3 linked regions of the Homo sapiens genome follow. The protein of the gene in region 1 purifies or fractionates together with the protein of each later gene. This does not show direct contact. Each region holds a gene or a part of one and is shown in the gene's direction. Other genes may lie near its edges.

Region 1 (3,720 bases):
TCCTGAAACTTCACACGTTAGCCTGTTTTAGCAATTTATAGGTATCTCATCTTCCATGGGAGTTAAGAGTCCAAAGGTGATGCTTAATGTAGAAATGGAATAAAGTCAAAATTCCCATGAAACAACACTAAACTCCTATAAAATTACAATGGGTATTATTTTATGTAATGCAATATTTCTCAATAAGTTAGAATGGACAGTTTTCTTTCAAGATTTACGATAGCTCTTTATTTGGCTGAGCTCAAATTAAGTATTTAACTTATATTTAGAATCTATGGCTTTCTTTGTTTTGATTGACAACTACATATGGTTGAAATATCATCAGTTAACTGTACATACTGTGCAATTCCATTGTACAAAGCAAATTTAGGCTTATTTGTTTTATCAGTATATGGAAATTATTGTGGTTTTTTTTTTCACATCTTGTCCTTTAGATGAAACAGCTATGAGTAAGCAAAATATTTAAGTTTAAAGCAAAGCTAGGGTACACATGGTGTGATAGATAGACCATGGTCTTGAGGGAGGAGACCTTGGTTGTAGTCATATCCTGAGATGTAGCAAAGACCCCCTCTACCTCTCATCTTCTCTGATTAACAAGGGGATGAGTAGATGTGCTTTGTTAAGGCCACTTTCAGCCTTCAGGTTATGCCACCATGATTTTAGTTTTGGTGCCTCTGTTATGAACATTGATCATGCTCCTTTTCTTACTATGGGCAAGAAAACTAATTTACAGAAAGCAAGTATCCCAGATCCACTATTGCCGTCTTTCTTTCAACATTAAACAGACATTATGAAGAAATCATAGCACCATACTATCCTGGAGGATATTTTGTTGCTTCTCATTGATATGCAGTGATAAAGGGACAAAATTGTTCCACTCTAAGGAGGGAGAACAGTTAACAGTGCAAGGATGTGGAGAAATCATGGCATGTGTTTGTTCCTAATGGATCTGCTTCTTTTTCCCTCTTATTCAGCCAAGCAGAAAATGAAGAAAAGAAAAAGGCTGAAGCACGAGCTAGAAACAAAAGAGAATCTGGAAAAGCAACCTCATATGCAGTGAGTGGAATCCATCCAATAAATCCTATTTGGTGCTATAATTTGAACAAATTTTAAGAGCCTAAAGGGTGAGATTTTGCCCTGCAGAAATCCCCAGAATATCTTAACTCTTCAATCTGGGGATGGTATTGAGATGAATTATATGGGAAGATTGATCCATTCTTGCTGATTAAAAACTAACTCTGCAAAAAAAAAAAAAAAAAATTGTTTAAAAGCTGAAAAACTGAGTTCTACTTCTAGTTTTATCACTTATAGACTGTTAGCTTTTGCTAACTACTTTCCAGAGAAATTCTACATGTATGCTTTCTACATATGAGTTTCTGATATTTCACATCTAATTTGAGATAAAAAATACCTTGATTCCCCCACCAACGCATGATTTTTATCCCTGAAATATTACAATATTAGTTTCCAAAGCCTTAGCTCAGTTATCATCACCAATGGTTTTGATGATAAAAGTCTCCTAATTTTCACTCTGGATTTTATCCTTTCCCTTGCCCAACCAGTCTCCCTAACATAGTTGGAGTAATGTTTCAAAATGTAAATAAGATCATAATATTGCTCTTAAAACCCACAAGCAGCTCATCATCATATACAGGATATGCTTTAATCCTGTTATCTCTCCTCTTATTTGTATCCTTATCTCCATTCAGAAAATCATGCTCTGCTATGTGCCATGTCTTTTCCTACCTGTGTTTTTCAGCTAGTTTTATTTTCATAAACCTGTGTGCGTATTTCCCAATTCACTTTTTTTTGCCCAGTCAAATCCTATTTACACTTCCACAGTCTCACCTAAATTGTTCTTGCTCCCTGACACCTTCCCTGGTTTCCTTTGAGTTCTCAGATTTTATTGTACCCTGTATGTTCGTACCTATTTTATTCTGTTTAGATTATAGTGGAATTTGCTTATATATTGCTTGTATTATATGGGGACATTGTGCTATGTTTTATTTTTTCCTATCTCTTGGCATATGATGTTTTTCTTGTTGTCAAATTGAATTTTACATTTGAGAAAAACACAATTAAAATCCTCAGCTCAAAGAGATGTAACATTAGTTTCTGCCAATGTAGATGTTTGAACCTTCTGCTTTAAGTAGAAATGAAATATATGGCCAACTTACTTCTTCTATCTCGGCAGGAGCTTTGCAGTGAATATCGAAAGCTTGTGAGGAACGGAAAACTTGCTTGCACCAGAGAGAACGATCCTATCCAGGGCCCAGATGGGAAAGTGCATGGCAACACCTGCTCCATGTGTGAGGTCTTCTTGTGAGTAGCCCTGCAGCTGGGAACATGGAGGAATGATTTTGTTCTTTCTATTTCATTTCCATGTTCAATTATGGGAGGGCCACTTCAACATAAAAATGAAAGAATTAAGGCATATTTAGAGAAACTGTCTGATTGGAGACATGTATTTGAAAATCCATGTCCTTTGAAGATTGTCAAGACTTCACACTTAAGCAAGGAGAAAGTCATAATCTTGAAATATTCAAGTAGTTTTGTCTTTTAAGTGTGGAAACAGGACAAGTTCTAGCTTATCTCCGTGAATAAAAGTGAGGCCAGTGGGCCAAAGAATGAAAGGTCTGGAAGACAGGTTCCAAGTGGATGCCAGGAAGAACTTCCTAACAGTTTGCGGATTTCAAAGATGGATGATTTACCATGGAATTCCAAGGATGATATCAGTACAGACTTTACAGGCAGATTAAAGCAAAGGCTTGGGAGTCATTAGAGATACAGTAATGAGCATTGGAAATTTAGAAAACCACCTCTGGACTAGGGTTTAAATCCCAAGTCTGTACTTATTATTTCTATATCTTCAGGTGAGTTATGCATTCCGTCTGTCAGTTTATTTGTATGTTGGGGTTATAATAATAGTTTTGTAATGCAATTGTGAGGATTTCACAGTGTAAGCACAGGGTTAGGCACATCACATTCAAAGAATTTAATCGTTGTTAAGTGTAAAATTAAATTATATTTGAGATCACTTCTAATGTGGCGATTCTATGATTTTTACTTATCTCTTCTTAACCATCCTTTTTTAGCCAAGCAGAAGAAGAAGAAAAGAAAAAGAAGGAAGGTAAATCAAGAAACAAAAGACAATCTAAGAGTACAGCTTCCTTTGAGGTGAGTTTATATCCTCCAGCAACTCAGAGGGATATGGCCCTGAGGATCCACAGATCATGTTCAGGGAACACGTGCATTCCTTAAAACTGTATGAAACAATTGTACAGTTTGTGTTTTCATATGTGTTTTCATGTGTGCAGTTATACATGTGCATATGTGACTATTTCTTGGTTGTTGGGTTCATTGTTTTTATCACTTAAAAAATCCATGCCTTCAAAGTTAATCATTCTAAAATAAGCCAATTGCTAATCCTCGTTTAAGAAAAAAAGTACAAGCTTTAGCTATTTTTGCAATCTGATTCAGCCTATGTTCAACACTTTCAACTTCCTGCCTCAATTTCACAGGAGTTGTGTAGTGAATACCGCAAATCCAGGAAAAACGGACGGCTTTTTTGCACCAGAGAGAATGACCCCATCCAGGGCCCAGATGGAAAAATGCATGGCAACACCTGCTCCATGTGTGAGGCCTTCTTGTGAGTAGAGCAGTAGCCCCATAGCGTCTGAGGATTGAGCAGTGGGAATTTCCATGGGAAGTTTTCAAACC
Region 2 (3,536 bases), on another chromosome or scaffold:
GGGAATGTGCTGACTTAGGAGCAGATGTTGTCTAATGGTCAGAATCCTGCCCCAGAATAAAATGCCCTTTCAACTTCTCTGAAAAGGAGCTGGCATAAAGTTGAACAACGGTTCATGGCCAAGCTATATGAGGTGTCTTCTCTGCTCTAGATTTATCCTCATGGAACTAGAAATCCACAATATACCTGATTGTGGTAAAATTGCTAGGTTTGTTTCTCCTTTTGAATAACCTGGAATCCTTCTCTGCAAACTGGAAACCCCCTTTAAGAAATTTCTTGTATATTTCTGTAAAGCCTTTTAAGATCTGTGGATAAAGACCATCACATTAACGTTATGGTTGGGTAATTTATATCAACAAAAATTTACTAGCACAGTCATGACATGGGCTATAATTGAGAATTCTAGTTACGTATTTTAGAATTTAAGCTTTCTCTGGCCCTCACCATTCATTAGAATCTTAATTATAATACAACATGAGTAAACACAAGTTTATAGGGGAAGGTTATTAGAAATGAACTTTAATGGACATTTGTGGATGCTGAGGATGAGCTTGGGCTCTATTATTAAAGCTATTAAAATCTTTGCCATTTTCTTCTTGTCACACACATCTGCCTGAGATCTGACAGGCATTCATGCTAAACCATAAAATGTATTCTTCCAAATGAAACCATTCAGAAGAATCTCTGGTGTATTCTCTGGCAATGTTTCACTAAATGACAAATTCAGCCCTGGAATGTTTATGAAAGAAATTGCACCATAATATAAAGTCACTCTGAATTTTTATTTCCTTAGATAAGAAATATGACTCTCTTGGTAGAGAAGCTTGAGACACTAGACAAAAACAATGTCCTTGCCATTCGCCGAGAAATCGTGGCTCTGAAGACCAAGCTGAAAGAGTGTGAGGCCTCTAAAGATCAAAACACCCCTGTCGTCCACCCTCCTCCCACTCCAGGTAAGCATGCCAGTTTTTTTAACCACTTGTGCCAGACCCCATAAGGAGCTGTGAGTGGGGTGGGGAAGGGATTGGGGATTGCAATGGTGAAAGAAGAAGGTGGGTTGTTTTTTTTTTTTTTTTTTCAGTTCTCAGTTTTCTCTTCCATGTTTTAAAATTCCCTTCCTCCCAAGTATTCTACATGCTATCATATTCTGGGTTTCAAAGAGGAAGAGCACAAACAATGAGTTGATTTAAAGCAAAATCCACGAGTTACACGTATTCTCTTTGCATTTTCTAACAGGGAACAAAAATCTCTATGGTGATGGAGGCCCTATCAGGGGCCTCAGGGGAAAGCCTCTGGAATCTGTGTGTGGCATCCACTTTCCTGTGGAGTTAAGGACTGATTGGCTCACTTATCTGATGAGCTGGGTTTATGCCTTTGATGCTGCCATCTTCTCTCTCTCCTTCTGTTTCTCTTTAATTTTTTCTTTTTTCTTCCTATAAATGCATGCTGAGCACCTGCTATATTGTGTGTCCTGAGATTCAGTGAGGATTAAAGGAATGACCCCACATATCATGTGCTTGTGGGTGTGTCTTGCCATTCCTCATGGATTGTGAGTTCTTGGAGTAGGGGTGGCATGTTCGTCTTTAATGAATTCTCATTGGGGTTAAGTACAGCACAGAGGTGGGTGTTCTGCAAATATACCCATGAACAGAGGCAGTGGAGTGTAGGGTACAAGAACATAGCTTTAGAATTCCAAAGACCTGAGCTTCTCAGCTAGGTGGCTGCAGCAAAAAGGATCCTTAATATCCTCATTTGTAAAATGGGAGAATAATAGTGCCTGCCTTGCAGGGTGGCTGTGGGGATTAATGAGTCAGTGCTTGGGAAGCTCGGAACCTTATGATCGGCACTCACACGCTGGCAATGGATATTGTTAATAATGTTGATAATTGAAGCGAAAGCCTTGCAGCAAAACAAAAGCAGTGCCAGATTACTGTGCCCTGCAATGCATTCCTTCAGGTAAACTAAAGCCTCTCAGCCACAGTGTTCAGCCCCATCCTTTAGAGATATCAATGACACAGGGACCTTCTCTCTGCAGGTCCTGAGCATCTTAGCCTGAGTGGGGACTGTATCTTTTCATCAAATCATGCAATCCTTTTATTTTTATGAATTCCAATCCTCACACCTGCTTTCTTTTAGACTGTGTTTCTGGATTATTGTCATTGTAACTGATTTTTTAAGGCTTCAATTATTAAATAGGTATAGCCATAGATATAAGCCTCTTGGTCTTCTTCAGGTGGATTTTTTTCCTCCCTCTGCAAATAGGAGTGTGTCCTACTATGACAGGTGTCATCTAATGGTTAGAATCCTGCCCCAGAATGAAATGGCCTTTCAACTTCTCCAGAAAGGAGGTGACATAAATTTGAACAACTGTTCAAATTTCGCATCCTGCATAGGAGGTTTAGGGCAGACAACATGGTCTGTCCTCTGTAATAAACTAAGGCTAAATTTAGTCTGGGATTAGTGGTGCAAAAATGTAGCAAATGAGAGCTGTTTCTGGTGGACCACAGAGGACTCACTGAGGCAGAGGCTGAAGCAATGACAACTCCTGATAATCCCTGAACGAGCTCCCCAACACCCCTTGCAAATCCTCCTCATGGAATAGATTTTTCTGGCACAATTTTCTATGCATCCCTTAGAATGAGGACATTTTAGATGAAGGAATATTCAGGGCCATCTAACTTAGCCTCGTCTTGTCTCAGAGGAGAAGACGTGGATGGTAAGAACGCTGCTTTTCCTGAGGCCACACAAGTAGTTAATGACAGAGCAGAAGCTGCAAGGCAAGGGTCTTTGCTCCCTGGTCAGTTCAGGACCGAAGGTGTCAGGCAGCAGTAATCCAAGGACAACGGTGGGGAGAAAATGCATTGCTTAGTATCCAGGGAAGAAAACAAGTGAGCCTGTTGGGTTGTTTTTGTTGGATTTTTTTTTTCCCAGAACTTTCCCCTAGGCCCTCACACTTAGACTTCTGTGATCCATCCTAGCCCAGCTGTGTTGTTTAAGCAAATTGGACCCAGATTTTTACTCACTTTCCCACAACCTTGGCTGTACCTGAATCCCTGCCAAGCCACTTGGCTCTCTTCCAGCTTTGTTCATATTATATTTATGATGTTTATATTAAACTGACTTTTGGTCATGTTTTTAAATCAATTTCTTTCACTTGCTCTCTTTCTGTTTGGATTGGTTGATAATGCAGAATTGGAAAATCCCCAAGCACCACAAACTTGTGAGCCTGTGGAGACTTTAATTAAAGTTATTCTCTATTATGGGACTTTAAAATCTGGCCTGTCTGCTTTTTTCACTGCAGAGTTGCACAGAATAAAAAAGACTATATGCAAGTCTCAGCTCTAAAGTAACTCTGCGCTCTCTGGGCCCCCTCCCTTATAGCTACAGTTTGCTGACCCAGTGGTCAGCTTGAACTTAGAACAAGTGAATGTATCCCAGGTTCAATAAAATATGCTTCCTATTTGGTTTTTGCTACAAACAACGTCCTTTTTCTGCCTCATTTCATAGAACTTTCTAATCTAAAATAATTGGCCTTCT
Region 3 (3,536 bases), on another chromosome or scaffold:
TACCCTATCTCCATTTTCTAACAATAAAAGTTGATGCATTGTAAATATGTAAGCAGCAGTGGGTTGCCCCCCGCTCCTCCACCGCACTGCTGCAGGGAATAAATCTATGATAGAGCCAAAAGAATTGCCCAGGTGTCTCCTAATCTAAGCCTTCAGATCTCTCTTTATGATCATTCCAAAAAATATGCCTGTCTTGGTAGTTTGCTGTGTTCCTCTTCTCATAGAGACAGTGTTCAGTTTCACTAATGAGTAGCAAACAATTTGCAGGAAAGCACCTGATTGATGAATGGAGAGCCACTTCCTTAGGCTGTGCCCATTCTTAATGGCAACTGAATCCAATTAGTTGTTCAACCAAATATTTACTGAACTCCTATTAGAAGCAAGAGACTCTTGAGGGATTCAAAGATCCATAGGATATTGTTCCTGCCTGCCTTCAAGTAGCTTACTACCAAGGCTGTCTCCATTTTGTGAAAACTTTCCCTAAAAGCTATTTCATTTAATACTTTGAGACTAAACACTATTATTATTCGGTATGGATATAGACATGGTCACCTTGATTTATTTTGTTAATAATGTTTTGCTCCTTATCTATATTATTTTAAAATGTACCCGGGTACAGTGGGTCGTGCTTATAATTCCAGCGACTCAAGAGACTGAGGCAAGAGGATCTTGAGGCCAGGAATTCAAAACCAGACTGGGCAACATAGCACCTTGTCTCTAAAAAAAATTTTTTTTAATTAGCCAGGCATAGTGGCATGGTCCTGTAGTCCCAGCTATTCAGGAGTCTAGGGTAGTAAGATTGCTTGAGCCCAGGAGTTCAAGGCTGCAGTGAGCTGTGATTGCACCACTGCACTCCAGCCTGGGCCACAGAGTGAGACCACGTCTCTAAAAAAATAATAACAATAAATATATATTTTAAATAAAATGTAACTCTTCCTTGGTTAGGCATGGTGGCTTGCACCTGTAATCCCAGCAATTTGGTGGAGACTAAAGCAGAATTGCTTGAGCCCAGGAGTTCAAGACCACCTGGGCAATATAGTGAAGACTCATCTCTAAAAAAAATTTAAAAATTAGCTGGGCATGGTGGCTCATGCCTGTAATCCTAGCACTTTGGGGGGCCAAGGCTGGCAGATCACTTGAGGTCAGGAGTTCGAGACCAGCGTGGCCAATATGGTGAAACCCCGTCTCTACTAAAAATACAAAAACTGGCCAGGTGTAGTGGCATGTGCTGGTAATCCCAGCTACTCAGGAAGCTGAGGCAGGAGAATCACTTGAACCAGGGAGGCAGAGGTTGCAGTGAGCCGAGATCGCGCCATTGCACTCAAGTCTGGGCAAAGCAAGACTCCATCTCAAAAAAAAAAAAAATTAACCAGGCATGATGGCACATGCCTGTAGTCCTAGTTCCTCAGGAGGCTGAGGCAAGAAGATCATTTGAACTGGGGAGGTCAAAGCTTCAGTAAGCTGCGATCATGCATGCCACTGCACTCCAGCCTGAGTGACATGGTGAAATTCCATCTCTGCAAAAAATACGAAAATTAGCCAGGTGTGATGGCATGTGCCTGTAGTCCCAGCTACTCAGGAGGCTGAGGCAGGAGGATCACTTGAGCCCAGGTGGTGGAGGTTGCAGTGGGCCAAGCTTGTGCCACTGCACTCCAGCCTAGGCAATAAAATGAGACGCTGTCTCAAAAGAAATAAAAAAAGTAAGCTCTACCACAATGCCTGGCAGGGACATATAAATTTACACAAAAAATAGCAATTTTATTATTGTCACTGCTATACACAATATTACATGTATATTATGACCAGTGCAGATGAAATTATACCTGCCTCTCATGTAATCTGGACATTATGCTCATAGTATTGTGCTCATGATGCTCATAGGCTTTCTAGAGAAGATAAACCCTTCATCTAGGTTTGGAGGGAAGAAAAAGCCATGGATTGGTTGGAGAGGATAGGAGAGGATACCTCTAATAGAAGGGAAAACAGTAGGCATTATACTAATTATAGTCCAAGATTGTGGTTGCCTAAATTCCTAAGTCATTTTTGACTCATCAAGTGAGGTTATTGACTATAAATAGGTTTTTGAGTCCAAATAGAAATTTACATTTATCCCTGATATATGTAATCATCTTGACTCAATCCTTTTTTTTTTTTTTTTTTTTGAGATGGAGTCTCACTCTGTCACCCAGAATGGAGTGCAGTAGCACAATCTCAGCTCACTGCAGCCTCCGCCTCCGAGGTTCAAGCTATTCTCCTGCCTCAGCCTCCCAGGTAGCTGGGATTACAGGCACCTGCCACCATGCCAGGCTAAGTTTTGAATTTTTAGTAGAGACAGGGTTTCACCATGTTGGCCAGGCTGGTCTCGAACTCCTGACCTCAGGTGATCTGCCTACCTCAGCCTCCCAAAGTGCTGGGATTACAGGCATGAGCCACCGCACCAGGCCTCAATCCTCTCTTTCTAATCTGTGGAGGCTGTTTTGAATTCACTGACTCTTTTGTTCACTGAACGCTTACTACATGCCGCATAGTTCTAGGACGTGGAACTATAGCAGTGAACAAAACAGACAAAGTTGCTGTTTTATTAAGCTTGTCTAGTGATCAAAGAAAGATAATAAATATATGTCAGGATAATAAGCTCCATGAAGAAAATTAAGGAAGGGTGATGGGGACATTATCTTACTTGGGGCAGACAGGAAATATTTCCCTCATCCAGTGAGGTTCGGGGCTCACGATAAGTGAAGCAGTGAGCTGCACAGATGCCTGATACAAGAATGCTTTAGGCCGGGCGCGGTGGCTCATGCCTGTAATCCCAGCACTTTGGGAGGCCGAGGCAATTGGATCACTTGCGGTTAGGAGTTCGAGACCAGCCTGACCAACGTGGAGAAACCCTGTCTCTACTAAAAATACAAAAATTAGCCGGACATGGTGGCGCATGCCTGTAATCCCAGCTACTCGGGAGGCTGAGGCAGGAGAATTGCTTGAACTCTGGAGGCGGAGGTTGCGGTGAGCCGTGATCGTGCCATTGTACTTTAGCCTGGGCAACAAGAGCAAAACTCTGTCTCAAAAAAAAAAAAAAAGAATATTCCAGAAAGAATCGGGGAAATGCTGGAATTATGTCTATTTCCTTTTCTTTTTTTTCCTCGCTCTGTTGCCCAGGCTGGAGTGCAGTGGCACGATTTTAACTCACTGCAACCTCCACCTCCTGGGCTCAAGTGATCCTCTTACCTTGGCCTCCCAAATAGCTGGGACTACAGGCATGTGCCACCATGCCCTGCTAATTTTTGTAATTTTTTTGTGTAGAGATGGGGTTTTGCCATGTTGCCCAGGCTACATTTATTTCCTTAGTTCTCCCTCCCTTCCAAGTGGTCCCCTAAAAAGTAAAGTGGAAAAAACTATAGGCCTAATCTGGACCTTTAAAGCCTAAACCCAATTTAGCCTCAATGAACTTGAGGGAGCGAAGAAACTTGAGGGTCCAATTTTTGTGGGAAAAGATAAGACTAGGGTAAGGGAAACAAAAAAAAAATCTATTTCTCTTT

What was found. Proteins that work in one complex are often made in the same cells at the same time.
Region 2: the proteins of SPINK5 (region 1) and OLFM4 purify together in Homo sapiens (co-immunoprecipitation; one large-scale study listed by IntAct). This does not show direct contact.
Region 3: the proteins of SPINK5 (region 1) and SYT11 purify together in Homo sapiens (co-immunoprecipitation; one large-scale study listed by IntAct). This does not show direct contact.

What each region holds. Positions count from the first base shown.
Region 1 is NC_000005.10:148,098,260-148,101,979, forward strand, and holds part of SPINK5 (serine protease inhibitor Kazal-type 5 isoform b preproprotein), read left to right. Parts: intron 1-974; coding exon 975-1,056; intron 1,057-2,194; coding exon 2,195-2,322; intron 2,323-3,095; coding exon 3,096-3,177; intron 3,178-3,521; coding exon 3,522-3,649; intron 3,650-3,720. UniProt on the Homo sapiens protein: Serine protease inhibitor, probably important for the anti-inflammatory and/or antimicrobial protection of mucous epithelia.
Region 2 is NC_000013.11:53,042,313-53,045,848, forward strand, and holds part of OLFM4 (olfactomedin-4 precursor), read left to right. Parts: intron 1-792; coding exon 793-952; intron 953-3,536. UniProt on the Homo sapiens protein: May promote proliferation of pancreatic cancer cells by favoring the transition from the S to G2/M phase. In myeloid leukemic cell lines, inhibits cell growth and induces cell differentiation and apoptosis.
Region 3 is NC_000001.11:155,862,567-155,866,102, forward strand, and holds part of SYT11 (synaptotagmin-11), read left to right. Parts: intron 1-3,536. UniProt on the Homo sapiens protein: Synaptotagmin family member involved in vesicular and membrane trafficking which does not bind Ca(2+). Inhibits clathrin-mediated and bulk endocytosis, functions to ensure precision in vesicle retrieval.